Regions from separate parts of the Homo sapiens genome. Here regions 1 and 2 are each linked to region 3. The links come from fine-mapping of genetic effects on gene expression. A gene starts in region 3. Each other region holds a variant in brackets. All regions are shown on one strand. Distances are between the middles of the regions.

Region 1 (11,035 bases), 23 kb after region 3:
TCTAAAACCAAATCAAATGCATCAGTTCAGGTCCTCCAGGAAGTCAAGATGGAGTTAGAAGTGCAAAAAAATTATCACAGAAGATAAAGGGGAGAGGACACAGAAAGAGGCAGGAAGAACCTTCAGACCACAGGGCGGGTCTAACACAAGTGGAAAGAGAGGGAGAAGGAAGGATTGGAAGGAAGAGTCTCAGACAGTGGTGCAGCTTTCAAAAAGTCTTGGCCAGCCCAACGGGGAGCTCTGATGCAAAGATGGCCCATAGAGGAGTCCCACACTGAGCAAAAATGACCCTAGTACCCTGCTGTGCTAAGCCTCTGATAGGGAGCTGCCTGGAACTAGCATGGTCTCACCTCAAATGCTGCCTTGGACCCTGAAGACATTCCACCTGAATGCTGTCAACTAATTGCACTCCTCATAACAGGCCCTCTCTTAAAGTGACATCCAAGCAGTGCACTTCCATAGCTGCCACAGGCCATCCTTTGTGCCACACAGATCCACTACTCCATAGCTGCTCGGGAAGCAGTTCCTCCTTGGCTCCTGTGGGCCACTCTTTCTGAAGGTAAACTTAGAAGTTGGCAGTCGGGTGCGGTGGCTCATGCCTGTAATCCCAGCACTTTGGGAGGCCGAGGTGGGCAGATCACGAGGTCAGGAGATCAAGACCATCCTGGCTAACACGGTGAAATCCCGTCCCTACTAAAAATACAAAAAAAAAAAAAAAATTTAGCCAGGCATGGTGGCAGGCCTGTAGTCCCAGCTACTCGGGAGGCTGAGGCAGGAGAATGGTGTGAACCTGAGAGGCAGAGCTTGCAGTGAGCAGAGATCGCACCACTGCACTCCAGCCTGGGTGACAGAGTGAGACTCTGTCTCAAAAAAAAAAAAAAAAAAGAAAAAGAAGAAGAGAGAAGTTGGCGGGACAAAGTACAAGCCCCATCAGTGCAGTTGGTCCTGCAACTGCAACAGGTATTTATGATTACCCTCTTCCACTATCCATTCTAGATTTCCCTCACCCTCAACTATAACCTCTGCAGTTTTGGCAGCTTCCTTCATCCCTGAGTGGTCTGAGTCCCTCGTATCCATACCCTTCTTAGGCCACTCACACTGTACTTGATCACTTACAGCCAATGAGGCAAAAGAGTACCAAAAGTCACTAGAAAAGATCATCTGAGTCCCGAGCATATTCCTCTCTGCCTCTATTATATAACAGCAGTCTTACCTCTTCCTTGATAATTCTCTATTACTCCCACCACCATGATGATTCTTCCTGCTTGCTGGTGTCTGGAATCAAGGAACCCCAAAATGCCAGGCAGCAGTGGTGGCTATAAGTACAACTGGAACCCAGGCTGTATGTCCTGATAAGAGTGCAAAGAACCAGAACCTCTACCCTGCAGAGCCTAGATTTAAGGAGATGGGAAGCACAATGTTGGCCCCTGAGTAGGTCACTGGGAAAGATGGAAAGTGAGGCCACTTTGGCCTCCACCCTATGGCTTCCAGACCCATGTATTCTTCCTACTGGGGACACAGTGCCACATGGACATCTCTGACACAGTGCATATACTGCATCCTGGAGGATGGCGCCTCATCCTTGTAGGGTATTGCCTCTAAGCCTGTGCTCCAGCTACACCTCCAGAAGGCCATTCCAACACTCTATCAAGCTAGTAGCTTCTGGGTGGCACAGTGTGACACCAGACTATCCCATGCTCATGGGCTCATGCACATACCTCCTTCACTCTGAAGTGTGTCCCTTGGTAGGATACCTTCTTGTGTGGGATTCCAGGTCTGCAGGTCATGCACTCTGAAAGCCCCTGGATAGTGATGTTAGCTGAAGTTCTGCCAGGAGGAAAGGAAAACCCATACTCAGAATAGGTTTCTGTCCTTGTAAGAAAGAATGGATGTCTCTTCTAAGAGATAATGGACCCAACATGGAGAAATGGTGCCATATTGGGGTCTCAGCATTGGTCTCTTTCACTGGAAGACTGGACCTTCAGAGCTAGTAGCAGCAATAAAGGCCTTGTTAAGTAGGATTCCATGCTTCTGGGCCCGTGAGCAGTCTCCATCTCTCACACTGTGGCCCATCTGTTTATGTGCCCATTGTGTCAGTTCTGGACTGGCTGATGGTGAAGGGTGGCTAATATCCAACTTGCTGAGTCATTTTGTGCACTTGACAGTTCAGCTCCTCTTCTACTGTTGATGCTTTCTGGTGGGCACTTGTATGTGACGTAAGCTTTTCCTTCATGCTCACTCCCATGTTTATCCATATGCCTCTACCCCAGACTTCCTTGTCTCCAGTTTTCCAGTCCTTTCCTTTTTAGACCTTTGGCTAGTCCATTGGCCACTGCTCAGAAATCTGTGCATATTCCTACCCTGGGCCACTTCTTCCACACAAAGTGGATGATAAGGTGCACACCTTAAAGCTCCACCCATCAGGAAGATCTTCCCTCCCCACTGTCTTTCAGGGACGTCCCTAGGTGGGTGTGGCTGGAATATAGCTGCTGTCCATTTCAGAGACTGAGCCAAACCATTCATAAGCAATATTCAGGCCTTTTCCTCCTCCTTCATCTAGCCACATGAGATCGCACAGCCATAGGTGTGAGCTAAGGGAAGGGCACTGGTGTAACTGTGATGGGTCACACAGGCATCTTGGCTGCTACTTCCATAGCTCACTCACACTTCTGTTCCTGACTAGATGAACTATTTCCATCGTGCAATGGATTGCTGGAGGGTCATCTGACTTTTCACTTTGTGGTCTGACAGACCCAGCTTATAAGGAGAAATTCCAGCTTATAAGTGACACACAGTCACTTGGTGTCCCATGGTCAAGCGTTGTCTCTGCAAGGGCCCAGAAGCACACCAGAAGCTGTTTTCTAAAAAGGTGTATGATTCTCTGATGCGGGTGGCATGGCCCTGCTCCAGAACCCTAGAGGCCTGTGTGGCGATCCTCCCATGGGGACTGGCCTTAAACCCTACCCTGCCTCCATTCTTACCACTGACACCTCTGACACTGCAGGGTCTGTCAGATGTGACGGTTCAAGAGTTGCACTGCAGCCTGGACCTGCTGCAGATCCCTTTCCTGCTCCCAGCCTCTCTCAAATCTCCCAGCCTTCTGTGTCAACCAGTGTGTGAACCGTAGAAGTTATCTTATGGGTGGAATGTTTTCTCCCCAAAACCTAAAGAGGTCCACCAGGTGCACTACTTTCTTTGTGGTGGAGGATTCAAGAGGCAGTAATTTGTCTTTTCCTTTGGAGGGGACATCCTGGCACGCCTCCGAACACTGGACCCCTAAAAATTTCACTGATGTAGCAGATCTCTGAATCCGCATAGGGCTTATTGCCCACCCTCTGGAGTGCACGTGTCTCACCAAGGCCTCCCAGTGTGTAGGCTGCCTCTTACTTGTCCTGTCCAATCAGAATGATGATGTCAGTGTAACAGATCCACGTGCCATTCTATGCACTGTCTAGATGATCCACATCTCTTTGAACTATATTATGCCACAGGATAGGTATAACACAGGGCAGAAGCGTTAACATGGTCCTGAGACAAATTGTAAATAAAGATTTTTGTTTGTCCACATGATCGTGAAATGCTTCTGTGTCAGTCCATTTTCCATTGCTTATAATCGAACACTTGAAACTGGGTAATTATAAAGAAAAAAACAGGTCTTACAGTTATGGAGGCTGAGAAGTCCAAGGTAAAGGGGCAGCATCTGGTGAGGGCCTTCTTGATGGTGGGGACTCTCTGAAGAGTCCTGAGGTGCCACAACACATCACATGGTGAGATGGCTGCGTGTGCTCCGGTCTCTCTGTCTCTCTTCTTCTTCCTATAAAGCCACCAGTATCACTCCCATGATAACCCATTAATCCATTAACCCATTAATCAATGATTGCACTAATCTACTCATGAGGGCCTTGCCAATGAGTAAGGGAGTAAGTAAGGTAAGGGATTTAGTGGCCCAATACCAGAAAGGAGCAGTGTGTTTTTAGAAGGCATTCTCCCAAATCCTGCCTGGCTGAGAAGGGGAAGACTTGGCATTTTGGGGACAATTCAAAAGTAGAATGAATACTTTTTGTTAGTTTTAAAACAAGTGAAAAAAAAAAAAACCAATGACTGGGGAACTTCATCTGCTTCCCTTACACTTGAAAAGTGTAAGGCTTAAAGCCACACCTCTCAATACTGTCACACTGGGGATTAAATTTCAACATAGTGAGGCAGAAATTTAAAAATAAATATGCATTCATTCACTCCAAAAAAAAAAAGTAACAGGCAAGGCAAGGGTTAAGAAGAAAAAAAGGGGTTTTCCTCTGCCTAGCAAGCTAACTTCAAAGACAGTTATAAGATAACGCTGTTTAAGGAGCCAAGGCCAAAGGAATGGGCTCCAGACACCCCTCCCCTCCAAAACAAGGTTAAAGGAAAAAAAAGAGAGAAACACAAATTCCTTTACTGTTACTCCTTTCCCTGGCTTCTTAAGCATACCTATGTTTTACAAATATCTGTATTTAGCCAGTTCTTATTTTTCTTTCAACGCAGCTACAAGGCCACTGGCTATGCAAGGCCACAAGTTATGCTATGCTATAAATTATATAACCTATCATATAATTAGCTACTTTTATTTTACTTTTGTAAATCCGCTTATAAAAACCCTGCTCTGTCTTTATTTAATGCTCAGCTTCTTGAATACAAATCCACTAAGCTGGTGTGTAGCTAAAATAAACAATCCTCCTGTTCTCCATATTGGTCTCTCCAGTCCTCAATTTCCCACAACAATAGGTTTAGGAGGGGACAAACATTCAAACCACAGCAGCTTCTTATCCTCTTTCCTTGACCAGCTGAAATGGAAAGGAATGCCTTCATCAAACCAATGGCCACATACTATGCACCTAAGGCCTTATAAATCTATTTGAGCAATGATACTGTGTCTGGTACACAGCATCTGCAACTGGGATTACTACTTGATAAAGCATGAGGTAGTGTACACTCATTCTCCAGAATTCATCCAATTTCTACAGGGGACAGAACTGGCGGATAAAATGGAGATATGATGGGGACCACCATACCTGTTAATACATCCTAGAGGTCTTTAAAGTGGCTCTAACCTCCATTATGCCTCCTGCAAAATTGTTTTTAAGGTCACCTTCAGAGGCAGATAGATCCCCACTCAAAAATTGGCTAGGATGTTAAGACTGATGACACCACATACACACCAAGAGGACAAGAAAAGTTTCACTACTTATGTAATTGAGGGTTTTCAGGAGAGGGGAGCAGTCATCTCCAGCAATTCCAAAATGGCTTCTGGAAGCAAAGGAAGGAGAGTGGCCTAGGTTTTCACTGAGGTTAGAAGTGGGGGGCCAAGATGAGAATTCCCACATGGAGACAGGAAATTGCATGGTTTGAATTTCCTTCATGCAGCAAAGAAGGGAGCATGCAGGCTTTTTTGCCAACTTGCTCAGAGGTAAGTTACAATGGGAAAAGGAAAGGTCAGTTTCTAGGGAGAATAAAGACTGAGGCAGGTGCTTCTCCAAGCACTGCTGCTGCTCTGGGAAAGGGAGGATCTTAGTTACTTGAAAGTTAAACTTTAAAGTGGCCCGTGCTCTGCCTGGCCTTCAGTCAGGAAGGGGTTATATGCTAGAAGGAATATAAAGTACGGCCAAAAGACAAAACCACTGTGAAAAGAGATGACATTGGGCTTTCTCAGGTGCTTGGAACCCATGCCAGCACAGAAATTGCTTGACTTCGTATAAGCAGACCAGGAAGATACTGTGGACATAGACCAGACTGGGCAACAGAGCAAGACTGTGTCAAAAAAAAAAAAAATGACAATGGGAAAGTCACAACTGTGCTGTCACTCCCTGTGTAATAATTGAGCTTTCGTTGAATGATACTGAGGGCCTGTCCAGGCAGGAGTAAGAATGTTAGATTTCCAAATATACTGTTTGGGGTGCCATCACAAGCATCAAGGAGGCAGGAGATGGTATACCATACTGGACAGTTTAGGAGACATTTTGAGTATCAAAATGCATCAGCCCCCCATCCTTCACCTTTGGACTCATGCCAGAGCAACAGAGCCAGCAGGCTTGCTAACTGTTGACAGAAGGAGCACATCACAAACTGGAAGCGGTAGAGTGTAATGAAAGCAGCACGGGTCCCAGAATTAAGAAGTCTGGTTCTGCAATTTTGTAACCAGAGCAGTTCCCACCAATCTCTTGTCCTTGGTTTCTACCTTTAAACAAAGAGAGACTTCATGATCTCTGGGGCTAGGGAAAGTAAGGCTCCACTGCCCTGCAGGATGTCAGGATGACGCCACCCCCATGGCGCTCCCTCATCAAACTCCTAGGGAACAAAGTCCCTCCTCACTGAGCCCCACAGACGAGCCCCGGTCAGCCCAAGGGCCCAGCATGGTTGGAGGGTCCAGCTGCCCTCCCTGTCTGCACGTCCACACCCCCTTACCCTGGACAGCCCTGACGACCGTTGTCTGGTGTCCCAGAGCCATGGCCGCCAGGGCTCCCTGCGAAACAAGCTCAGGCCACAGGAGCCCCGTTCGGCCCCCGCGGGACCGCGCTCCCTCCCGCCGGCGACGGTCCACGCGCGGTCACCCCAAGGCCACTCTGGCCACGGCTGCAGACCTTGAGCGTGGGAAGGGGCAGCCAGCTCCTCGGGCCCATTCGTGATCCTCGGGCGTCCTCTGGCGGCCAGAGCGGGCGTGACCTCAGGAGAATCCCCGCCGAGGCCGAACTCGCCCCGATGGCCGTTTCGCTTTGTGGACGGTCGCATTTTCCCAGCGGGCACTGCGACCGACTGTGACTGTGGTTCCGGGTATGGTGGTTGCACGCCTGTGGTCCCAGCTAGTCGGGAGGCTGAGGCGGGAGAATCGCTTGAGCCCAGGAGGTCGGGGTTGCAGTGAGCTATGACAGCGCCACTACACTCCACCCT[G/A]GGCAACAGAGCGAGACCATTTCTCAAAAAGAATAAAATGACAACCGGAAATATACGACCGTGCTGTCGCGGCTGCAGGAAATGGCGGCGTGCCCAGGCGCACTCATGACGGCTGCGTGCTCGTCAAGGTGCACAGGCGCGCACGCGTAGCGTACACTGGTGAAAGTTGCGCATTTGGACAGGCGACACGTCCTGCGCCCGCTACCCAGACTCTGGGGAAGGCAAGGGGTGCCGCTCTGTTCTACTCCTTTTCCTTATCCATCTCTTCTGTCTTTCCAAAGAGATGGTGAAAGCTCCACACACAGGATAAACATGAGGAACTGAGGAACAGTTAAAAAGATGTCTATGCTAGAGCTTCAACCCAGGCCTCCGCCCCAGCCTGCTGTCCCCTGCCTGCCCTTCCACGTCTTATGCACTTCGTTCTGGGAGCCTCCATGCATGCCCTGGGGAGCAAGCCACACATTGCCCTCGCACGGCAGTGTTCCGTCAACTGGCACCATCCAGCATGTTCAGCTTGGTTTCTTTCCTCATCCTCATAAGCCACTGACTCTGGGTTGGAACCACCATCGCAGTTAGGTCATTCTCTACAATCGCTGGCCTACTATGCCCTGACCGTATCCCAGTGAGCACAATAGGGTCAGAATTCCAGGCCACTGTTGTCCCCCAACTTCCATTTTATCCCAAAGAGACCTTTCCCACTAGTTTCCCACAGCAGAGGCGAGACCGGCTGGAAAATGGAATGAAATTTATTGAAGAGAAACGTGTACCGAAATCACTGAAAAGAAGGGAACCACAACACAGAGAGAAACTGCAAACAGCCACTACAGGACACAGGTCCTAGGATCCCTCCTCCTGGGGTTCCTGGCAAGGCGCCTCGTCTACCCCCGTCCTGCTGCCGACCCCACTGCTACCTCCCTCCTTCCCGAGGGCCCCAGGGCCCGCCTCTTGCCAGGACGTGGACTCTGGCAGTGTCCACCGGCTTCAGGGAGCCCCCTCCCAAGCCCATCTGCTGGGGCAGGGCCCTGCCCTATAGTCATCACAGACAGTCACAGGACACCAGTAAACACAGCAGGGAACAGCCCACCAGGTCGAGGAAACAGTCACAAGTAACAACAGGGGTGGAATGCCAAAGCATAAAGCTCTCCTGGGAGCCTCAGGCAGGGCAGCCCCACTCCGTCCCGGGTCCGGCTCTTCCTCCCACAGTCATGGTTACCATCGTGGTCACAGGGTGAGCATTGGCCGCGCCCTGGTTCCTCCTTCCCGCCATCTCCTGGGTCTGTGCTGGGGGCCTCCGGGGAGGAGCAGCTCAGAGAAGAACACACACAGCTCCACGAGAACAAGCAGCCACTGGCCTAGATCTACACCAGGAAAGCAGAGGTGGTGTTTAAGATGCAGGACAGACAGCAGTGAGCAGAACCTGGGCTCACAGGAAGCTCACAGCACATGCCCCGGGCCTAGTGGCGGCCGCCCGGGTGGGTGCACAACACACAACTTTGCACAGGAACGACAGCTAGCAGTGGGTGGGCGTCTGCTGGGCGCGTGGGTCACTACGGGGCCTAAACAGGTGAGGGTGGGCTTCCCAGAACAGGGGGCAGCCTGCCCCGGGGACGGCAAATGGGGCAACCCTCTTGGGAGACCCAGGCAGCTGGCACCCTTGAGAGGACCTCTTTCCCCTGTCTCTCCCAACCCAGGACAAGGGGTGGGGGACAGACATCTTCAGGTGCCCCCACCCAGGTCGCAGCTGGCCACTCAGGGCTCCCTCCTGGCCAGCCCCCCAGAGACGGCAGGGTTTGGGGCTGGGGCTGGGTGCAGCACTGGGTGCAAAGCAGGGGTGCCTCCCCCAACCCCATTTGGTATCAACGTGGTCATCTGGGTCACCGGGAAGGGCTGATGGTGGTGGCCAGGGCCCTTTGGAGGGAGGTGGGGGGCCCCGATCCTGATGTGGGATGAGGGACCAGCCCTGGCCTGGCCTCCCCACTGCCTCCAGGATGCTGCGGCCTGAGAGGAGAGGAGGCCCTGGGGCCCTCTGAGCCTATTTGCCTGGGGAGGATTTGGGCTGACCAACCTTCCTGGCCCCATCCTCATTTTCCAACTCCTCCAGTATGAACATAAGACCCCCTTGGGTCGGGGGGCTCCTCAGCCTCCTGGCCTCCTGCCTGGACAAGACCCTCTGGCTCCTTCGAGGCCTGCAGGGGCATTTTCACCTTCCCTAATGGCAGGGGTGCTCCTGGCGGCCTCTTTGGTGGCAGGAGCAGTCTCAGCAGCATCTTCCACGCCAGGGTCAGCCTGGCTGGCGTCTTCCTGGGCTGAGGAGGCCTGAGCAGCATCTCCACAGGCAGGAGCTGCCTGGGCGGCAACTGGATCTTCACTTTCCACTGTGGCCACTGGCCAGGCCACAACATGCTGGCTCCTCACTGGGGAGGCCGCCCACGCCTCCATCTCCTGGATGAGCTGAAGCAGCCCCAGGAAGTAGGGCGGCCTCCTCTCCAGTGCATCCCCCTCAGGGTATTCTGGAGTGCTTCGCCAGGGCAGGCCTGAGGCTGCACCTACCGCAGTCACAGGTGGTTGGCCAGGGCCGGGCAGACGGCCCCCTTCTCCAGGGCCATCTGCAGCAGGCCTTCCAGGCATACCAGGAAGGCAAAGGGCCCCTGCGTTCAGGTCAGGAACTTCAGCCTGGAAGTCATTCGAGGGTCCCGGTTTCCAAACGCCTGCCCCAGCACCGCTGCCCAGCAGTCCAGCAGCGCCTGGCAGTCCAGTGCCGCCAAGTTGGGATCTTCCTCTAGGAGGCCGCTCACAACGTCCAGGGCTGGGCCACCCAAGCTCTCCAGCAGCCATCTCTTCCTCTCCCTTTCCGACGCATGGTACCACAGCTGCAGCATATCCTTGGCGTGCTCCATCCAGCTCTCAAAGGACTCTTCCTCGCAGCCTGGCTGCTCCCTCCCTGAAAAGGGTCTCAGTTCCTGGTAGGCCCTGTTTTCCAGCACAGCCTGCAGGGTGCAGCGCCGAGGCTGGACCCAGGCTCTTGTTACATTTGTCCCTCTTGCCTCACCCACAGCTCCTGCCTCACCCGCAGCTCCTGCCTCACCCACAGCTCCTGCCTCACCCACAGCTCCTGCCTCACCTGCAGGTCCTGTATCACCTGCGGCTCCCTCATCTGACTCTCTTGCCTCTTCTGCAACTCTCAACTCATCTCCAGCTCCTCCCTCACCTGCACCTTCTGCCTCACTTGCAGATCCTCCCTCACCTGTGGCTTCTGCCTCACCCTTACCCACAGCTCCTGTTTCACCTATGGCTCCTGCTGCACCTGCAGCTCCTCCATCACCTGCCTCTTCTTCCTCACCTGCAGCTCCTGCCTCACCTGCAGATCTTTCCTCATTCACACCTCCTGCCTCACCTACAGATCCTGCCTCACCTGCAGCTCCTGCCTCACCTGCACCTCTGGCCACTGCTTGCCCCTGGGGCTATGCAGGGAAACTGGGTATATCCTGAAACTCAGCATCAAGGGCCTGGGGCAGGGAGATCACTTTCCAGGGTCCCCCTTTGCCTGCTATTTGGCGGGGAATCAAGCTTTGGTTTAAACCCTCAGCGAATTCCACCAAGGCTGCCCTGGCCCCGAGCTCCTTTCTGAAGACCTTGATGAGCACTCGGTACCTGCCCAGGGGCGACAGGGCAGCCCGCACGGCCTCCTGGAACTCATGTTCCTCGCAGTCGTCAGGGATATCCAGGATGAGCAGAGAGCGCTCTGCGTTCACACCCATCCTCCTGCACCAGTCCCGAAGCATCGCCAGAGCCATCGCAGAGGACTTGAGGGAGGGAGCCTGATCAGACAGGAATGTGTGCTGACTGTTGCAGTCTCTGACGCAGCCTGTGAGTGCAAAGGGGAGAGAGGGACGTTGCTGCCAGTCAGCCCACCCCCACCGCACAGCCAGAGACCAGCCACTCCCAAATGCAGGGCCTGAAGCATCTCCCCTGCCCAGTGTCACAGCCCATGCTCCCCCACCCCTACTGCTGCAGCTCAGAGTCCTTCACTGCACCCCCCACCTCCACAGCAGGAAGCGCCTCTTTCACCTGGTGAACAGCCCCTGATCACAAAACTTACAGCTGGAGCCCCTCC
Region 2 (11,035 bases), 310 kb before region 3:
ACATTCTCTTGGGCACACATGGAATATTTATAAAAACCAACCACAAACTGGAACTTAAAGCAAATCTTACCATGTTTCAAAGGGTTAAAATCATTCAGAGCGTGATCTCTGACCACAGTGTCATTAAGCTAGAAACCCAAGAGAAAGGGAAAATAAACAGCAGACCCTGACATTTGGAAGCTGGCCTGGCCCTTGCAGGGAGGCCATGCTGTTCTCCTATTGGACATAAACAATCTCCCAGAATACTAACCTCAGACAAGGTTACTTGGAGACCATGAGAAAATGAGACAAAGCAAGGCCACTTCATTATTTTGTCTAAGTGCAGATAAAAACAAGGTTAACGTGCAACCCACAAAATACCAAACGTCCTCCTCCTGCTTGGCTAGTGTGGGTGACTGCTGCTTCTTTACAAATTACAGCTTTAGCTTTGTTCTAGCCTGCCCTCCCCAGAGAAAAGATTTACTAAGATACCCAATCATAGACTTGTCCTCGCTCTCTGACAGTGCTTAGAGCAAACCCTGGCTTCCTCGGGCCCTCCTCAAAATACCCCACAAAAGTCCAAATCTAATAGGTTTTTTTCTAACGTACTTTCTCTGAGATGGCGCACATCTCCCTCACTGCAGAGAGGAAGAAGCTCACTGTATATAACTAGAAAAATCCCCACGTGTTTAGAAAAGAAGAAATGCACATTGAAATCATCCAGGGCTCAAGGACAGTAACATGGGAATTAATAAATATTTTATTGAATGATAAAACATGCTACACTTCTGTAACAGTCAGCTGTCTGACAGGAAATGACTGTCACGTGCAGACTGAGTAATTTGAGGAGAGTTCAAGAAATGGATTGAGGTGGCTTTGTAATGTGTCAACTTGGCTAGCCTGAACTATGTTTTCCAGAATTCCCTTTCTTATAGGTTTTGGTGAGATGGGCAACATGAGAGATTCTGATGGGAGATTTGGAGAACAGAAGGGAAACAAACATGTAACTAAGTTCTCGTAACTAGAAGATAGAAGGAACAAAAAATAAGAAAAATACATAGACTACAATAGAAAAATGGGCCAAAGTCTTGAACAGACAATTCTTCACAACATATGAAAAGTGCCCGACCTCATTTGTCATTTCAGAACTATAAGTTGACGTTAGTGGGAGATACCATTACACACCCACCCGACTGGCAGAAACCAAAAGGTATCACAGTTGCAAGTTGGCAAAGCTGTGCAGCAGTGGAAACTTCCCACACTGCTGGTGGGAGTGTGCGTTGGGAAAAGGGTTGGCATCCCGTAGTAATATTGAAGACACACTTCCCCTATGACCCAGCAGTTCCACTGCTAAGTATACAAACTCTAGAGACACTTGTGTATGTGGGCCCCAGAAAGCAAGTGTAGACGGTTGCAATACATTGAATGGTGCCCCCTACTCCACAACAAAAATGATACATGCCCACGTCCTAATCCCTAGGCACCATGAATGGGATCTTATTTGGGAAAATGGTCTTTGTGGATGTAATTAAGTTAAGGATCTTGAGATTACATCATCCTTGGTTATCCACGTGGGCCCTAAACCCAATGAGAAGTGTCCTTATAAGAGAAAGGCCTGAGGCCACTTGAGAGAGGCTTTGTGAATATGGAAGTAGAAAGTGGAGTGATGTGGCCTCAAGCCTGGAGCACCAGAAGCTGGAGGAAGAAGCAAGAAAGAGAATCTCTCCTCAAACCCTCAGGGGAAGTGTGGCTCTGCTGATGCCTTGATCTTGGATTTCCAGCTTCCAGAACTGTGGGAGAATCCATTTTTGTTATTGTAAGTCGACCACTTTGTGGTATTTTGTTGCAGCAGCCACAGGAAAATTGTACAATGGTTCATCACAGCATTTGGTGGCTGAAAATAAACCAAATACTCAGCAGGGGTGGGATGGATAAATACATCATGGTAATGTTGTACAATGGAATACTCTACCGGGATGCAAAGGAATACACTCTAAGTATGCTATAGTAAGGATGGATTTTAAAGACACAGTGATGCATGAAAGAAGCAAGACACACAAAAAACATACATTACAGTTACAGTTATGTAAAGTTCAAAAACAGCAAAGTGGAATCATATGATTTATGGATGGATGTGTGCTTCAGTGGCAAAACTCTGATGCAAAGCAAGGAAAAGATTACGAAAAATTTAATAAGAAGGTGATTGCAAGGGACACACTCTGGGCTGGGGTGGCGGCCAAGGCTCTAGCCCTTGATCTGGGGTCCAGGGGGTTAGCTGAGTATGTTCACTTTATAACTGTAGAGTTTTAAAGTGCAGAAAATGCATGTAAAAAATATATATGATTTACACAGTCCTCTGTATCTAGGCTGTATTTCACAATCTGAAAAGTTGGGACATTAGCAAGCAGAATTCAAACAATGATTATTTGCAGATTATCTATTATATATATGTCTCTGCATCAGGAAAAATCTAAGGGAATCTACTAAAAAAGTTACAAAGAGTAGGGCCGGGCACGGTGGCTCACGCCTGTAATCCCAGCACTTTGGGAGGCCGAGGTGGGGGGATCACAAGGTCAGGAGATCGAGACCATCCTGGCTAACACAGTGAAACCCCGTCTCTACTAAAAATACAAAAAAATTAGCCAGGTGTGGTGGCGGGCGCCTGTAGTCCCAGCTACTCGGGAGGCTGAGGCAGGAGAATGGCGTGAACCCGGGAGGCGGAGCTTGCAGTGAGCCGAGATCGCACCACTACACTCCAGCCTGGGCGACAGAGCGAGACTCCGTCTCAAAACAAACAACAACAACAACAACAGCAACAAAAACAAATTAAAAAAAAGTTACGAAGAGTAAGGAGAATTCAGTAAGTTGTATGGGTACAAAATCATTGAGACAAACAATAAGTTAGAACATACAATAAAAAAAAAGATGCCATTTAATAAAAACAATAAAATACCTTGAAATAAATTTAACAAGAAATGTGCAAGATCTATGTAAAGAAATTTTAAAATGTTCCTCAGGGCCATCAAAAAAGGCCTGAGTGAATGGAACGGTCTATAATGTTCTCAGATAGAAAAAGTCAACTTCATAAAGAAGCAAAATTTCCCTACATCAATCTCTAAATTAAAGATGATCCCACACACACAACCACAGAAGATTTTGGAATTCGTCAAGATGATTCTAACATTGGTGTAGAAAACTAAAGGAGTAAAATTAGCCAGAAGTATTCTGAAAAGGAAGACTAATGAGAGGGGCACTAGTCCTACCAATATAATGCTTATTATAACATAATAATATATGTTTGATGTGATATTTAATATAATACTTATAACATAATGTTTGATGTAATATTTAATACAATACTTACATGTGTGAGGTAATATTTAATATAATACTATAACATAATATTTTGATGTCATATTTAATATAATACTTATAACGATATATGTTTGATGTAATATTTAATATAATACTTATAACATAATATATGTTTGATGTAATATTTAATATAATACTTATTATAACATGTTTGATGTAATATTTAATATAATACTTATAATGATATATGTTTGATGTAATATTTAATACAATACTTATAACGTGTGAGGTAATATTTAATATAATACTATAACATAATAATATATGTTTGATATAACATTTAATATAATACTTATAACATAATATATGCTTGATGTGATATTTAATATAATACTTATAATAATATATGTTTGATGTAATATTTAATATAATACTTATAACATGTTTGATGTAATATTTAATATAATACTTATAACATAATATATGTTTGATGTAATATTTAATACAATACTTATAACATGTGTGAGGTAATATTTAATATAATACTTACTATAACATAATATTATGTTTGATGTAATATTTAATATAATACTTATATTAAAACATAAATTGAGAGTAATTTAAAAGAACTGTGTAGTACTAATATATGAATAGAAGACAGAACAATAGAAAAAACAGAAAGTCTAAAATACATCCAAATACAAACGAGGATTTAGAATATGATAGAAATGTTATTTCAGTTCCTTGGGGAAAGATGGGTTATTCAATAAATGGTGTAGGGATAAGTAGGTGGCCATCTGGGAAAAATGTGAAGTTGAATCCCACATCATAATGTGCAACCAACTAAATTCTGGATGGATCAGATTTAAAGATTAAAAAAATAAAGCTATAAAAATATTGGAAGAAAATATGGGACATTTAAAATATGTTGGAAGAGAGAAGGCCTTTTAAAGTATGACAGAAGCCAAAACAGAGAAGCTTGATTAATTCAGTACATAAAAACGAAAAGTTTCTTCAACACAAAACTTCCTGCCAGCAAAGTCCAGGGCAAATGTTAAACCGGGAAAATTATTTGCAATTCCTGTTGGAGACAAGGAGGCTAGTTTTCCTATTATTTAATAGTTCCTACAAAATAGTAAGAAAAATGACAGCAACACAATAGCAAAACAGGCATAAACTAGGAATACGGTTCACGGGAGAGAAATACAAATGACTTCCAAATAAGAGAAATCCAAATCAAAACTACCTGCTTTCATTTATCAGACTGGCAAAAGTAGAAAAGTTTGATAGCACCCAATGTTGGCAAGAGTGTGGGCAAATAGGCACTGTCCTATGTTACTTTTGGGAGTTGGACCTGGTACGACTTCTGTGGGGGTAATTTGGCAACATCTATCAAAATTACAAATTGTGTACCTTTTGACCCAGCAATTGCACATGCAGGAATTGATTCTACAGATATATTTTTGTGAAAAGATAAAAGAATACTAGATGGACATTAAAGAGAATGAAGAAATTAGGTGCTGATATAAACCATCTCCAACACACATTGTTAATTTAAGAAAGAAAAGTAAAGCACAGTGTGAGTAGCATGCTAGCATTTGTATAAAATAGGAATGTGTGTGTGTGTGTGTGTGTGTGTGTGTGTGTGTGTGTGTGCATGTACATGCATAGAATGTCAATGGATAATTGTTGAAGTTGGGTGGTGGGTACGTGGAGGTTCATTATACCATGTGCTATTTATTGCGTATGTCTGAAATTGCCCATTATAAAAAGTTGAAAATATACTTAAAGTGATGACAGTAAAAAGAATATCTCTAGAAGAATAAACAAAAACTGGGTAATACTGGTTGCCTCCACAGGCAATGTATTAATTAGGAACTGTGTTCAATGGAGTAACAGAAAACCAGCAGTGGGGATTTAAACACAAAAGAGTTTATTTTTTCCACGTATGGAGACATAAGGAAGTAGGCAGTTGCTGGCTTTTGTTAGTTGCTTGAGGATGTCAAGAGAGATCTTTACGATTTTCTTGGCTTTTTTTCTCTATCCGCACCAACATAGCTGCTGAAGCTCCAGCCATCAAATATGTGTTCTAGGTTAGGAGAAAGAGAAAGTGTGGGGATCAAACAGGGCAGCTCCTGGTAATTCAGCCCACTGTCAGGAACCTTCCAGAAGCTCCACCCAGTGACTTTCACTCTCATTTTACTGGCCACCCCTATCTGCAAGGAAGGATGGGAAATGTAGATTTGAAACTTGCAACACTACTACTCCCAACAAACTCAGGGTCTCTTTACAAAACAAATAATGAGAAGAGTCAAAATAAATGGATTTTAAAAATGCCGGGAAAATACTAACAGAGAGAAAGCAGGTAGAACAATACTACTATCATGTAAAATGGAGCCCAAAGCAAAAAACTTTCTCAGGGACAAATATGACTATTCCTATATGTAAAAGACACAAGCTTAAAGGCTTGGTGCCCAATATAGTTTCATAACATGTGAAACAAAAACTTGATAGAAGTTCAGAAAAAATTGACAAGTTCGTAGTCAGAGTGAAAGAGACTTACTATACTTCTCTCAGGAACTGACAGACCAAGGAAACAACAAAATAAATAAGTATATAGAGGATCTGAATAA[C/A]GCAAGTCAGGAGCTTGACCTAAGAGGTGCACAGTGTGTATAACTGCATCTGACAATCAGATAACGCAGAGTTTCTTCTCAAAAGTATATGAAACATTATCCAAGACTGACTACATATTTGGTCACAAAGAAAATCTCAAGTTCAAAGGCAGAAATCATATTTATTGAATCCAAAACACTAAAATAAGAAATTAGTAACCAAAGGAAAGCCCCCAATACTGAAAATAATAATTAATAAAATAAATAAATTGCAAAAAGCCCAGAATAGTTGAAAAGACCAATATTTAAAAATGCACAAATTCATAGAGATATTGGTCAGGAGAAAAGAAGGTGAAAAAACAAATAAATATAATGAGAAACAGGACAGGGTGTAAACTTCAGATGCAGAGTCAATTTTTCTAAAACTTGTAAGAGAATACTATATATAGGCCAGGTGCAATGAAGACTGAGGTGGGCAGATCACCTGAGGTTAGGAGTTAGAGACCAGCCTGGGCAACATGGAGAAACCCCATCTCTACTAAAAATACAAAAATTAGTCAGGCATGGTGGCACATGCCTGTAATCCCAGCTACTCAGGGGGCTGAGACAGGAGAATCACTTGAACCCAGGAGGCGGAGGTTGCAGTGAGCCGAGACTGTGCTACTGCACTCCAGCGTGGGTGACAGAGCAAGACTCTGTCTCACACACAAAAAAATAATACTATATATAGTTTTATGTGAATACATTAGAAAATATAGATAAAATAGAAAATTTTCTAGGAAAATACAAATTATAATAATTGGTCAAGAAGTAGAAAATCAGAATAAACCAATATCCATAGAAGAAATGTAAAGATAGTCAAAGATCTATGCTTCAATATTGCATCAGACCCAGGTGGTTATATGGTTAAATTCTGCTAAATCTGAATTGAAATAGGTAATTCTCATATTGTACAAACCCTTCTCTGCATTGAAAAAGATGGAAAGCATCCAAACCCATTTTATGAGGCTATTATAACCCTGATACCAAAATTGGAATCAGATTGCACAGTAAAAGCACTGTGTAGATCAATCTTCCTCATGAACAAAAACACAAAGATACCTCATATCCATGAGGACATTACAAGGATCCTTTATCATGTCAAAGTACGGGTTCCCTCAAATAATGCAAAGATAGATCAATATTAACACAGTTATTAATGTAATTCACTTCATTACTGGTTAAAGGGAAAACATAATATATTATCTCAACTGATGTAGGAAAAGCATTTGATAAAATTCAGCATCTATTTACAGCATCCTTGCCAACTTTTAGTAATGGACTCAGCCTGATCAATGCGAGACAAGAAGGAAATACAGAGTATAAATGTTGGACTAGAAAAGACTATAATTATTCAGCTATGTTGTGCTCATTTTCTAAAGAATCTAAAAGAAGCACCTGACAAATCTTTAGTGTTCATATGAGATGTTTTCACAGGCTCTACCTTTCCTGCAATGACCAATTAACCAATATACTATTTTTAAAAACCTTGTAATCCCCAGAACAACGCAAACTATAAAATCATTTGAACTTAAAAGGCATAAAAATGCATAAGACTGATATAAAGAAAAATATAAAAACTCACTACAGGACATAAAAGTAGCCTGAATAAATGATAAGATATATCATGTTATTGGATAGAAAGATTCAACTTTGAAAGACGTCTGCTCTTCTGAAATTAATCTATAACTTTAATGCAACCCCAATAATAATCCTCAAAGGATTTCAATAGAACCTGTGAGGCAAATCTTAAATCAATTTGGAAGAGAAATGTACAAGATTGGCAAAAAATCTTAAAAGAAAGAACCTACTAGATATCAAAACTTATAAAGCAATAGTTAAAACAGTAGAGTATTGAAGCAAGAATCATCATATTAATTGATAGGACAACAGAAATTCCAGAAACACGCCCATGAAAATTTGGCTATTTAGAATTCATTCGTTCATTCATTCATTCATCCATCCATTCAGTTGACAAATCATGACGTGCCAGACATTATTTTAGGGGTGAGGAAAACAAAGCCTCTGCCCTCATGGAAGCATGGAGCTTACTTTCTACGTGATGAACTTGGCATTTCAAATAATCGGGGGAAGGATGGTGTTGGGACAATTGGTTATTCATGTAAGGAAAACAAAATAATAGATTCTAACTATAGATCATAGAAAAGACAATATTCCTGAGTGATTAACAAAAAGTCTAAACATAAAAAACAAAACTATAAAAAAGAAAACTATACAAGCAAATTTATAAAAACAAGACTAGAGGATAAAGAAGATGTTATTAAGTAAGGCACAAAATGCACACACCATAAAAGAAAAGCCTGATACATTTGAGGACATAACTGTGAAAAATATAACTTCTACAGGACAATAAATGAGCCATTAACTAAGTTAAAAATAACTGTGGGGCTGGGCGCGGTGGCTCACGCTTGTAATCCCAACACTTTGGGAGGCCGAGGCTGGCGGATCATGAGGTCAGGAGATCGAGACCATCCTGGCTAACATGGTGAAACCCCATCTCTACTAAAAATACAAAAAATTAGCTGGGCGTGGTGGCAGGTGCCTGTAGTCCCAGCTACTCAGGAGGCTGAGGCAGGAGAATGGCATGAACCCTGGAGGTGGAGCTTGCAGTGAGCCGATATCGCGCCACTGCACTCCAGCCTGGGCAACAGAGCAAGACTCCGTCTCAAAAAAACAAAAACAAAAACAAAAACAAACAAGCAAACAAACAAAAACAAAAAAACACCGTGGAAGAAGCATCTACAATGTACATAACAAAGGGTTACTATCAAGCATATAAAAAGAACTGCATGTCCATAGGGAAATCAGCAAAGAGTATGAAAGAGCAGTTTACAGAAGATGCCATTGAATGGTCTGTAATAGTAAAAAGATGTTCAACCTGACTGCACTAGTAATCAGGGAAGTGCAAATGATAAGGAAGTACCTGCCATTTTTGCCCGTTGGTTTTGGCTAGGGTGGGGGGACATGGGAACTCTTGCCACTTGGTACAGGCTTTTTTGGAGGGAACGTTGCCAGAATCTACTTTTAAAATGCCTGTACCTTTTGAACCCAGTAAATGCCACTTCTGGGGATCTGTGGGTGAGACTGCTCATTGTCTCTCTGGCCCAAGGGCTATTATTCATGGGTGCTAGGCTGCTCAGTGAGACGAGATTGCCCAGCATCCCTTGGGGTGAGTGTGGTGCCCACTCCCCACTCAAGCTCCTCCTCAAGTGGAGCTGCTATAGCAGGGTCCCTGAACCACTGTGCACCCATAAATTGTTTGTTAGTGGTGGGTCCATGACCAGCATTAACTTTTAAACAAATCTATAAATTTGTAAAGGAGAAAGGAGACTTTACTTCTTTTTAAGGGTTACAGCTTGCAAGGTGGTCGTCCTGCAGGCTGGGAAGCGTGCCTCTGGCCAAGACAAGAGACAGGCACTTTGAAGGAGGAGGGGTTGGGCTAGGATCTTGGTGCTGGACAGGTTAGCTAAACATACATATTCAACAGGTTACAGGAAGAGCTATGAATATTCATAAAGGGGGGTCCTGACACATGTGTACTGAACAAACATGCATGTAACATATGACCCATGTTCACTTTGGGGTGGAGACTTAACATTTAAATGTATTACAGTTAGGTCCTATACATCCAAAGGTCTTTTCAGGACATGAAGTCACTCAAGCATGAAATCTCTGTAAACTGGCAAGAACAAGCATGTGGCTGCTGGTCTTATCAGGAGAAAGTTACTGAAATCAATCTCTTGTCCAATCAAAGCTGTAGTTATGCCTGGTGGAACAGGGGTTCAGTTAGTCCATGTCTGAAGCTGGCTGAGCTGCAATTGTTTATAATCTTGCTTATTTCAAGGCCAGTGCTTGTTTAGCTGCTAGAGAAAAAGAAAAACTTGTGGCAGTGAGAGCACAGTTCATTCTGTAAGTATAGGGGTGTGGGACTTAACCTTTGCGTGGCATGGCCTTAGGTCCTGTTTATAATTTCGCATCTAATTGTCATCAAGAGTGTGTTCTGTCAGTCTTATGATCTCTATTTTAACACCAATGCAGGTTAGTTGTTGTGTTTAATCTCCAAAAGGGAGGCATGTCTGACCTGCTGTCTCATCATGGCTGTGAACTCATTTTTAAGGTTTTCTAATGTCCCCCTGGCCAAGAGGGGGTCCGTTCAGTCAGCTGGGGGCTTAGGATTTTATTTTTAGTTTACATTGGGTTAGTACAGATATTAAGGCTTTTATAGTAACAGAATATCACCATGGCATCTTTATTGCAAGTTAAAAAATATTTCACTCCACAATTGAATGAAATAAACTGGCTTTTCACCATAGACCGTTTGAGAAGTGCTGTCCTAAAGAAGAGAGGAAAAAGGCAATGTGAGGAGCTGGGGTCTGTGAGTGACTGTGTGGAGCACAGCTGCCCCATCAACCAGGACTACATGGCTCAGACTTCCATGAGAAATGATCCTCAATTTTCTCTAAGCTACTGCTTTATTGCAGGTCTCTTTGTTGAAGCAATGTAGTGTCACTCTACCTAACTCAGCATCTGTTGTACAGCTCACACCTGTGCACAAGAGATCTGAGCAAGGCTCTTGCAGCATTGTTTCTATTAGCAAAACCCTGGAAAATACCTGAATATTCACCAAGAAGGGGAAGGGTCAAATAAACCTCACTATGCTCATGCTATGAAATACTGACCTGTAGTTAACAACACTCTCCCAACATTCTCCCACGCTTAGTTATGTGAAGAAAGTAAGTTGCATGATAAACAGCTGGCATGATAAACTGTCTATTGTGTGTGTACATATATGCAGGTAAATATGCAGAAAAATGTCAGGACAGATGTTCTCAGAAAGGGGGGTGTGATTGGGAGGGGCCAGACAGTGACTAAACGGGGTTTTTATTTTATTCGTATTTGTTTAATATTTTAAAATGAGATTATATTCATGTTTTGTTTGTGTAATTAAAAATGAATATAAAATAGACAATAGTCTTTTTTTTTTCTGAGACATAGTCTCATTCTGCCACTCAGGATGGAGTGCAGTGGTGCAGTCATAGCTCACTGCAACCTCTGCCTCTCAGGCTCAA
Region 3 (11,035 bases):
ACACCCAGCTAACTTTTGGGGTTGTTTGTTTGTTTGTTTTTTGAGGCTAAGGCTGGTCTCAAACTCCTGGGTTCAGGCAATCCTCCCACCTTGGCCTTCCAAAGTGCTGGGATTACAGGTGTGAGCCACTGCACCCAGCCAATATAGGTATATTCTAAGACCTAAATGCAAAAGCTACAACTACAGAGGTTCTAGAAGAAAACATAGATCAATATGTTTGCAAATGTGGGCCAATGAAAGATATCTTAGGCAAGACCCAGGCAGTGGTCATTGTAAAAAGAAACAAATGATGCAATGGACTTCATTATAATTAAACCCATCAGCTTATGAACAGACACCATTAAGAATATGCATAAGAAAGACACAACTGGTAAAAAGTGTTCCCAGCACACATATCAAAGTACTTGTATCCAGAGTATTTTAACAACTTGCACAACTCTAATAAAAAATTTAAAAAGCCAGGTAAAAACTAGGCAAGGGACTTGAACAGGCACTTCGCTAAGGAAGACAGATAGCTAATAAGCACATGAAAAAGTGCTCGATATTATTAGTCATCACAGAAATGCAAACTAATGCCTCAGTGAGATACCACAGTGAGTCACCCAACAGAATGGTTAAAAGTTTAAAGCTGGCAATACAAGATTTTTTGGAGTACCCTAAGAAACGAGCACTGCTCATTAGAGTATAAATTGTCACAATAGCTTTGGAAATCTGTGTGAAGTTTCTTATAAAGTTAAATATACCACTACCCTGTGGCCCAGCCATTCCATTCCTAGGTATTTACTCGGGAGAAAGGAAAACAAAAGTCCACAGAGATTCATACGAGGATGTTTCTATCAGCTTTAATCACACAATAACTGTAACACATATCTATTTTTAGATTAGGGACCTTAAAATAGATACTGCACTTGATCGTAGCCAAAAGGCCAAGAAGCCATGTGAACCTTAAAAATAGGAATGTGCCAGGGGTCAGAAATGGATGATTAGCTAGTAGGCCCAGCTCTAGGGCCATCAGCCTAGAGGCAACAAAAGTCTCACTGCTGTTTGGTGGCAAAGAAACTTCTACCTCTCTCTGCCTTCTTTCCAACCCTCTTGATCCCTTAAAGAAATAAAAAAAAAATCAATCACCCAACATTTGCACTCACACGAAAATTCACACACCCTCTCATAAACTGTCTCATACACACTAACACACATACTCACACACTCACCCATTCCACACATTCACGCATATGCACACACAAACTCATAAACACACTCTGAAACACACATTCACTCATGTGCACACTCAACAACACAAAGTCACCCACACATTCACTGTCATACACACATTCACACACCGTCTCACTCTCACATATTCACATACTTTTACTAACACACATATACATTAAACACATAAACATACATTTGACCACTAACACACATTCACTCACACACAAAAACTGATGCATACTCACACTCAAATACAAACACACATTAACATATTCACACACCATCTCACACACTCACATATTCACACATTCGCTGACACATGACACACACAAACTCTCCTACACTCACTCTCACACAATCACTAGTACGCATACTCACACATATTCACCATCTCACACACACTCACAGAGATGGGCCTGGTTTTGATGCTCCAGGTGTGGAAGCCCAATAGTGATACAAGGGATCCTGGGGCCACTGGTCCAGCCTGCTGTCCCTCACCCTTCCTTAAATATGTTATTCATTTCTGAGAAGCTCAACCAGTGCCCTGAGGACCCAACCAGCCACTGCCTGGGCCTACCAGTGTCCTGTCTACTGGGACTATCCAGCCTGCTCAGCTGGGTTTCTTTGCCTGGGTCCGTGGGCCGTGAACCCTAGCTCATGACCAACATGCGCAGATAGGGCATTCTAGAATGCCTTGCAGACCGAGCCCCAAGTATACACCAGTGTTAACAAAGCCACTGTGGCCCTCACTCCACCCCAACCCCATGCCCAGCCAACCTCATCCCCAGTTTCCCACAGCAGAGGCGAGGCCGGCTGGAACACTGAATGAAGTTTATTGAAGAGAAACACGTACTGAAAACGTTGAAGAGAAGGGAATCACAACACAGAGAGAAACTGCAAACGGCCACCACAGGACACAGGTCCCACACAGGTCCCGGGCCCCCTCCTCCTGAGGTTCCTGGCAAGACGCCTCATCTGCTCCTACTCCTGCTGCAGCCCCCGCTGCCAACTCCCTCCTTCCTGAGGGCCCCGGGGTCTGCCTCTTGCCAGGAAGGTAGACTCTGGCAGTGTCCACTGGCTTTAGGGAGTCCCCTCCCAAGCCCATCTGCTGGGGCAGGGCCCTGCCCTATGGCCCGCACAGGACAGTCACAGGACACTGGAAAACACAGCAGGGAACACCCTACCAGGTTAAGGAAACTGAGTCATGAGTAACAACAGGGGTGGAACACCAAAGCACAAAGCTCCTCGGGAGCCTCAGGCAGGGCAGCCCCGCTCCGTCCTGGGTCCAGTTCTTCCTCCCACAGTCACGGTCACCATCGTGGTCACAGGGTGAGCGTCCGCCTTGCCCTGGTGCTTCCTTCCTGTCATCTCCTGGGACTGTGCTGGGGGACTCCGGGGAGGAGCTGCTCAGAGAAGAACACACACAGCTCCACAAGAACAAGCAGCCACTGGCCTAGATCTACACAGGGAAAGCAGAGGTGGTGCTCATGACGCGGGACAGCAGTGAGCAGAGCCTGGGCTCACAGGAAGCTCACAGCATGTGCCTTGGGCCCAGAGGCGGCCACCTGGGTGGGTGCATAGCACACTACTTTGCACAGGAACAACGGCTAGCGGTGGGTGGGCGTCTGCTGGACGCGTGGGTCACTACAGGGGCCTACACAGGTGAGGATGAGCTTCCTGGAACAGGGGGCAGCCTGTCCCGGGAACAGTGAGTTGGGGGACCCCTCTTGGGAGACCCAGGCATCTGGCACCCTTGAGAGGGCCTCTTTCCCCCTGTCATCTCCCAGCTCAGGGCTGGGGGAGTTTGGGACAGACGTCTTCAGGTGCCTCCACCCAGGCCATGGCTGGCTGCTTAGGGGATGCCTCCAGGCTGGATTCCCCAAGGTGGCAGGGTTGTGGCTGGCCTTGGAATTGGCATTGGCATCTGTTGAGTTGCTTTGGCCATGGCAGCCCCAGGTTCTCCTTGCTTGATCTCTCCAGGAGTCTGGTGGCCCTGTACAGAAACAAGCAGAAGAAACAAAACCCTACCAAGTCCTCCCTTTTCCTCCTCCTTTGCAACAAAGACTTCCCTTCACAGCCACCCTGGTCCAAGTCAACTGTGAGGGCACTGGCCTGCCGGGTACCCAGTACCCCTGCTGGGGGTCTTCTCATCAATCTTTGGTCTCCTTGCCTGCACAACCTCTGGCTGGCACTGGGCTCCCGGGGCCTTAGGGTCTCCTGTCCTCACTGGCACAGGGCCTCCAGGGTGCTGCCTTCCTGGGGCTCCCCTAGTGCAGTGTAGATGATCCTGAAGACGGGATGGACCCTGTGGCCTCCCCTGCAGGGCTTTACCTCTGCCCCCCAGCTCTTCCTCACCAGCCCTGGCACCTGCTGGCAGGGGCAGGCCCCAGGTAGGCTCCTCCAGGTCCCATGTGGCCTGGGGGCCAGTGGGCATGTTCAGCTCAAAGTCCACAGGGTGGGTATTTAGGGGTGGTTGGATGAGCAGGACAGAACCCCCAGCCGTACCTTCTTCAGCTTCTGCTTCTTTGGGGTCCCCATCTGAGGCCCAGGCACCCCATGTGCTGGATGCAGTGGCTCCCTGCTTTCCTCTCCAGCACCTCTTCGGGGACCTGGACCTGACCCCCACTGAGCCTGTTGCCAGGTGGTCTTGGTTGCTGAAGTCCCTTCCAGCTGGCCAAGGGTGAGAAGGCTTGGCCTTGGTCTGGCTGCCCTGTCCCTCTGCCCCACTCAACTCATCTGCTGTTTGTCTGGGCTTCTCTTTCCCCTCCTTCCAATATCTCTTTTGTCTCCTTGGCCTGTGGTAGGAAATGTTGCCCTGTTCTCCCGAGCCTACTTGGCCTTGGACTTGGGATGGCTCTTGTCCCAAGCCCAGTTCCCGTTTCCCGACTCAACTGCAGCCTGTTTCTTCTGCTTTACCAAGAGCAGGTTGGAGGGGTTGATGCACTGTACCCTGATGTGGCCGTCTTCCCCACAGCTATAGCAGAATGTGTGGCGTTTCCGTTTTCTTGAGCCTCGAGAGCCAGCCCTTGCCACACCACCCCTTCGGTGTTGGCCTCTGCCCCTCCGGCGCCGGTAGCCCTGGGAAGGCCTCGCATCAAAACTGTTGCCAGAGGCAGGGAGAGGTACTGCCCCAACCCCAGTGATCCTGGCAGGTGGCCTTGGGGCTACTTCCAGCCCCTCCAGACTCTCCCTATCTGGACCTAAAGTGGCCTCCCATTCCTCCTCCTCACGCAGGAGCTTCACCAGGGCCAGGAAACCAGGAGGCTTCCTTCGCTGTTTCATCAGCTTAAGCTTATCTCGGAGTTTGTCAGGAAGGGTGGCCCCACTTAAGACTCGTTTCAGGCGAGTCTGATTCACGTTTCTACGTGATACCACATTGTTTTCTACAGCTCTTTGGAGCAGGGGTTCCAAACGTAACACAAAGCTAGATACTTTCTCTCCTGCCTCCTGATAGGCTTTACACAACTTCACCTGGGCAATTTTATGGCTCTCCACAGGTCCGAACACCTGCTGCAAGGCAGCCAGGCACTCCTCCACAGTTATGGAAGCATTGCTGGCCCGGAGCCCACTGACCACCTGGAGAGCAGGGCCCCGTAAGCATTCCATCAGCCTCCGCCTCTTTTCCCCCTCGGGCACCTGCCACATCTGTAGCATCTCAGTGGTGTGCTCAAGCCAGGCATCAAAGGCCAGTGCACCTGGGATGGATATGGTGTTCCCAGAAAACACTCTTAGTTCTCGGTACAACATTTGTTCTAGCAGAGGCTGCACTGCTGCCCCCAGAGTCTGGGCCCAGGTCCAGAACTCTGGTGATATAGTCACTCTTGGAGCCGAACAATTGGTGTCCGACCCGAGGACTCGGTTCATATCTGACACGGTCCGCCTCTCCTCCTCTAAGAAGCGGTTCAGTCTGTTGAGAAATTCCCCATCTGAGTTACGGGGTTTTACAATCACTTCCCAGGGCCCCCCCTTTCCTGGTATTTCCCTTGGGAGCAAAGCATAGTCGATATCTTGTGCCAGCTCCAGTAGAATCGCCTGGGCGTTCTCCTCCCTCCTAAACATCCTGCCAATCACCCTGTATCTGCCCAGGTGCCTGCAAGCCTCCTGGAGTGTCTCCTCAAACTCATCCTCGCCACAGTCCTCGGGGATCCCCAGGATGAGCATGCACCTCCGGGTGTTCAGGTGTTCCCCCCGACACCAGTCCTGTAACAAGGTCAACGGCATGTCCTCGAATCTCTGCGGATACTAATTTGGGGGGAGTGATCAGGGCGTGAGGCACATATCTGGATCAACTCCTAGGGTGATCGCAGAAGGCCCAGGTCTCCACAGCCTGTGAATGCGAGCAGGGCGAGAGCGAGGTTAATGCCCACCTCTCCGCACGCCCACATCCACGCCCACCCCCACCCCCACCCCCAGCCGCCCTCCTCCCCGGGCGGCGCCTCTGCAGCCAGGCCCCGCCCCTGCCCAGCCCCCCACCCCCACCCCCCGTGGGGTCTCTGCGGGCCTCAGCCCCCTCCCCGCGCTGCCCCAGGACCCTGGACCCCTGCCCTGCAGGCTGCTTCAGTTCTGATAGGGCGGACAGGCGAGGGGCGGCGGAGTCTCCCGGGGCCCAGCGTCTCCCTCCCCAGGTGGGTCTGTTACCTTCTCCCAGGGCAAGGTCCCTTCTGGTCGGGGTCCCCAGAGGGCTCTCCGGGGGCTATGCGCGGCGGCGGCGGCGGCGGCGGACGGGGGTCGGGCACCCCTGGCTCCCAGCGCGGACGTTCGCTCAGACTGTGGCTCTCCCTCGCTCGCGCAGCACGTGGGCCAGTGCGCCGGCGCCTGCTCGCCGCGGCTCTCTGCAGTGCGGACACGGGGCGGGGGCGCGGCGGCGGTGCAGCGCGGACCCCTCCGCGTCGTCCGGGAGACCGCAGGGCCATTGGCGCGGACGGGTCACGAGGTCGGGCTCTCGCCGCCGCCCCTGGGGGCCCCAGGTCCCCGGGTGACGTCACCTGCTCCTCTCCCCTAGCCCCCCCGCCACGGGGGCCCCCGGGCCCCCGGGCACACAAGCGCCCGCCCACCCCCATCCCCACTGCGGTGGCCAAAGGTCTGTGGCGGCCAGTCCCCGTGCCTTTGGCTCTCACCACAGCGGTTCCTGGTCCCGGCTCCTGCCCCTCCCGCACGTGCCACGGAGGTGCCAGCGGGGCGAGGGGTCTGCACCCCGGCGTGCCCACCAGAGGGCCAGGGAGTGGTCTGAGGTGCGCCAGGCAGCTCTGCATTATGGCCAGGGTCAGGGAGCCGGGTTCTGGGGCCTGTTCACCTGCTCTTGTCCTCCCCCTCCCCGTCCAGGACTGGTCCTCTGGCTGGCGAGGCCAGGGGCACCTGGTGCGGGTGCCATTCCGTGCAGGAGATGCCCCAGGCACTCATGCAGGTCACGCACACCACCCCAAGGAGGGTCAGCCATCTCCCCGCTGTCCATCCCGCTGCTGGGACCTGAGGCCCTCCGGCCAAAGCGCTTCGCTGCCCAGGTGCCAGTGGACAGGTTTACCGGGACCTTTCCGGTTTTGTGCGCTGCAAATCTAGTGACTTGGGAAACCACTTCCAGGACTTGGAGCCCAATCCCTTGGGCCTGCCCTTCCTTGGCAGCCGTGCGCCGTGGGTTCTATTGTATCCGTTTGATCCCAGGGCAGCAGCCAAATGAAGAAGGGAGTGACTGTCCCTCAGGCAGTGGGCCCAGGTGTTCTGTGGGTCCTGCCTGCTCTGCCAGCCGCATGCTCAACTCCTATTCACACAGCTTCAGCTCCTCTCCAAACACAACGAAAAGGGGCTTGTGGTTGATTTTCAGGCCAGGTTCACCCATCCAGCCAAGTCTGGGAGGCCACCTTGCAGTGAGTGGGGCACAAAACTGTCCACTGACTTCCTGCCCCACCCTGAGTTCTGCTCGTCAGCCTGGCACTTGTCAGGGACCAAGAAGAAATGGCCCCAAGGGCTTTTTCCTGGTCAGACAGAATTCCTGAAACATCTTTACAGGAGTTATTTCATTTGCTCCTCACCAGAACTCTGAAGCAGGTATTAACATTATCCTGATTTGACTCATGAGGCTCAGAGAGATTAAGAGACATTTTCAAGGTCACACACCGTATTGAAGGTAGAATTGAGACTGGATTCTAAATTAGTGCCCATCAGTCTTTGGGTAGAATTGGGACTATTTCTCCCCTGGTTGCTTCATGCCTATTAGAATTTATTTCTCTCATTTTTGTCCATTCACAGTCCCTTGCTTTGTCACTCCAAGGGCTCAACCAGCTTCAAACTGAACCTTCATCTGCCCAACTTGCAGGGGTGGAAACAGAGGTTCAGAGAAGGGACACTACTGGCCCAAGGTCACACAGTGAGTAAATGACAAAGCTTGAGATGTCAAGGGGAGATGCCAAGTATTCATGCCAAGGCAGAGGGGCGTGTCTGGAATGTCTCCGGAAAGAAGCCTGTGAAGTTCCCAGACAGACGCAGTGATCTGTGGATGTTCTGGGCATTGGGAAAAAAGGATTTGGAAACACTGGTATCAAGACAATAGATGTGAATATGTCCAATTTGAAAAGTTTTAGAACTCCTTTATATTGGAGTTAACCTTTGCCCTTGAAACCAGTGGAAATGTCTTAATTACTTTTGCTTCCCCATCTCCTTGCATGGTAGATAACACAGCAGCACCAAAGTTGGGGAACTGATGGATAAACATTATTACTTGTAAAGTGAAAAACATAATACAGCATGAAGGAAGCAACCTCCACCGGGGTGGCCTTGCCCTGGCTTAGACCAGTAGTGACTATCGGGGTCACAAAAGGGGCAGATTCATGGGCCCCACCTCTGCAATCTGATCTGCTGAGTCTGAAACAGGCCTGGGAATTTTTTAAAGAGTTTCTGGTAATTAAATACTTTATAAAATACATTCTGCAATATTTAACATACAAAACGTACTTAAAAAGTACATCCAGTACTCCTGAATGTAGTAACTGGATGAAGACATAAAACACTGCCAGTGAGGGTAAGCGCCTGCAGATTCCTTCCCTGTTGTCTCCCACTCTTGTCCTCCATGTGCATTTCTTCGTGCTTTTTCTGCAAATGACTATATCCCTAAAAAATTGTCTTTGTCTCTTTTACACTTGGCAGAAATGATATCATACTATTCATAGTCATCACTGTATTAACTAATTATTGTTTGTGAGAATCACCATTTTGATATAAGCAAATTTTATTCCTCAATTTTCACTTCTGTATAGTATTCCATTGTGTGTGTGTGTGTACCAAAATTTATCAATTTTCCCATTGACAGATATTTAAGTTGTTTCCCATTTTTACTATCAGAAACAATGCTGCTTTAAATATTCTTGGAGAGTTCCTCTAAGTTATGTACCTAGCCATGGCATTGCTGAATCAAAGACTATCTTTAGTATTCAGAGACATTGCCAAATTGTCTTCTGGGTTGCTGTACAAATTTATGTTTCCATCAAGCTCCATATCATCACTAACATTTCATATTGTGTGACTTAAATGTTGTTAATCCTGAGGAATGTCAATTGTTATTATGCTTTTATGTAGAATTTCTATGATTATGAATTAGATTTAATACCTTGGTTGGGGGGGCATTTTTTATTCCTCTTGATTGAAATTCCTATTTTTGTCTCAATTCTCAACTGGGGTGCTTCTCTTTTTTAATTCTTTCATAGGAGTTATTTATTTACTTTGGATATTTCTTCCCATTAAGTTACTATTCCTGCACAACCAGCTACCCAAAACATACTGGCTTAAAACAACCATTTTATTCTGCTCACAATTTTGTAAGTGAGAAATTGAGAGAAGGTTTAGCTGGGCAGTTCACTCATGGGATCTCTCATGTGGTTGCATTGAGATATGAGTTGAGAATCAAGTCTAAAGACTCAACAGGGCTGGGCACCCAAGATGGTTCATTCATATGGCTGGCATTGAGTCACACTTTTGGTACTTGCAGCCCAAAGCACGCTAATTTTTATAGAAGCTCAGATAACAATAGCTCCTCTGAATCATCATTATTGGACCAATTAAGTTTTTTATTTGGACTTTAAGAAATTTCTCTGGGAAAATACACAAATGGACAGAAATTACACCTCTTAATTTAAGACTGTTATGGGTTGAATTATGTCTCCCCATACCTCAATTCATATGGTGAAGTCCTAATCCTTAGCACCTCAGAATGTGACCTTATTTGAAAATAGGGTCATTGTAGATGTACTTAGTTAACATGAAATCAAGCTGGAGTGGTGTGGGCCCCTAATCCAATGTGACAAGTGTCCTTATAGCAAGGAAATTTGAACACAGAAACATGAAGATGCTCAGGGAGAACACCATGTGAAGATGAAGGCAGAGATTGGGGTGATGCTTCCACAAACCAGTGAATGCCAAAGATTGGCAGTAAAGCCCCAGAAGCTAGGAGAAAGGTCTCTGAGCAGATTCTCCCCCACCACTCTCAGAAGGAACCAACACTGACAATACTTTGATGGTCTTCTGGACTCCAGAAATGTGAGACATTCCATTTCTATTGCTTTAGCCACCTAGTGTGGTACTTTGGTACAGTCACTCTAGAAAACTAATAAAAAGATTAAACTGCAAATCTTCGAATGGTAAAAATGCTGAAAGGTTTCTGAAATGGAATCTGGACTAGATGGCATAACTATTTAATAATGAGGATACATGAGAGCCAGAGGAGAGCAAAGGAATTACTTATAAGATAAAAAAAATAAAAAAATAAAAAAAAGAATCTGGAAGTAAAGAGACAAGAACGACTCCCCAGAGTGGCCAAAGCCCGTGCACCACTGCATCCCTCCCCCAGAGCCTATGTCCCGCCACTATCACCACCATCCCCAAGAGAAAGGCTGAAGGGGATGCTAAAGGAGATAAATCCAACATGAAGGACAAACCACAGAAAAGATCCAAGAGGTTGTCTGCTAAACCTGCTTCTCCAAAGCCAGAGTCTAAGCCTAAAGAGGCCCCTGCAAAAAAGTGAGTGAAGGTACCCATAGGGAAAAGGGTAAATGCTAATGCTGGCAGGGAGGGGAATAACCCTGCAGAAAATGGAGATGACAAAACAGACCAGGCACAGAAAGCTGAAGGTCCTGGAGATGCCACGTGAAGTGTCTGCATTTTTGATAACTGTACTTCTGGTGACTGAAGAGTTTGAAATACTATTTTTTATCGAGTTTTATAAAAATTCATAATTTTGTTTTACTTTTTTTAAGCTATGCTGTTAGCACGCAGAGCACTTCATTGTTGTTTGGGGGGAAAGGGGCATAGGTCACTAATAGAATGTCTATGAAGCTGGATTGATGTGGGGAAAACACATTTCCCTTCTAGGTTTGAGAGACTTCCTATTGGTTCCCAAGAGGAGAGATTCCCTGACTTTGACACACATGGCCACCTTGGCACAAAAGCCTTGGTATGGAAAAACAAATTGTTTTTATGTCCTCTTCTCCCTTTCCACCTTTCATCATAGACTTAACTCACTCAAACCCAGACACCTGTTGGGACCTGAACCCAAATAATTGGTTACCAGTGTGTCAGGCAATCTGGACTTGCCTGTGATGCCACTGAGATGGTGCCCCTCAAAAGAGCAGCGGTTCTGTTTCTAGATTGTGGATCATCAGATAAATTCTGCCATTTTCATTTCACTTCCTGAAAGTCAGGGTCAACTCATGAAAGGTTGTTAAAACAACATGCTAAATGAGAAATGTCAACCTTCACTCTAAACTTTCCCTGTTCAGAGCATCAGATGAAGTCTTCATTGGGTTTTACAGTGGCTTTCTGATTTTTGGTAGTCCATTGA

Which allele goes with the higher level. Positions count from the first base shown, and alleles are read on the strand shown. Sizes are in standard deviations (SD) of each study's normalised expression. Not every link is listed here.
In carriers of allele G in region 1, the expression in whole blood of the gene that starts at base 6,019 in region 3 tends to be lower than with A alone (moderate effect, 0.40 SD a copy in GTEx).

The links. PIP is the estimated chance that this variant, and not a neighbour inherited with it, causes the effect.
Region 1: its variant is fine-mapped to the expression of PNMA3 in whole blood (TOPMed, PIP above 0.99). The same link has a PIP of 0.9 or more in sun-exposed skin and unexposed skin.
Region 2: its variant is fine-mapped to the expression of PNMA3 in kidney cortex (GTEx, PIP 0.97).

What each region holds. Positions count from the first base shown.
Region 1 is chrX:153,028,465-153,039,499 of GRCh38, reverse strand. It overlaps the pseudogene LOC112268308. Among named protein-coding and RNA genes, the nearest start is that of PNMA3, 22 kb to the left of the region's middle. The variant G/A (reference allele first, on the strand shown) is at 6,922.
Region 2 is chrX:153,360,644-153,371,678 of GRCh38, reverse strand. No RefSeq gene overlaps it. Among named protein-coding and RNA genes, the nearest start is that of MIR12129, 31 kb to the right of the region's middle. The variant C/A (reference allele first, on the strand shown) is at 5,928.
Region 3 is chrX:153,051,454-153,062,488 of GRCh38, reverse strand. It overlaps PNMA3 (PNMA family member 3), which reads right to left and starts at 6,019. Exons shown (of 2, transcript NM_013364.6): 1 at 5,851-6,019; 2 at 2,027-5,539. The coding sequence starts at 5,433. The coding sequence ends at 4,042. It also overlaps the pseudogene HMGN2P48.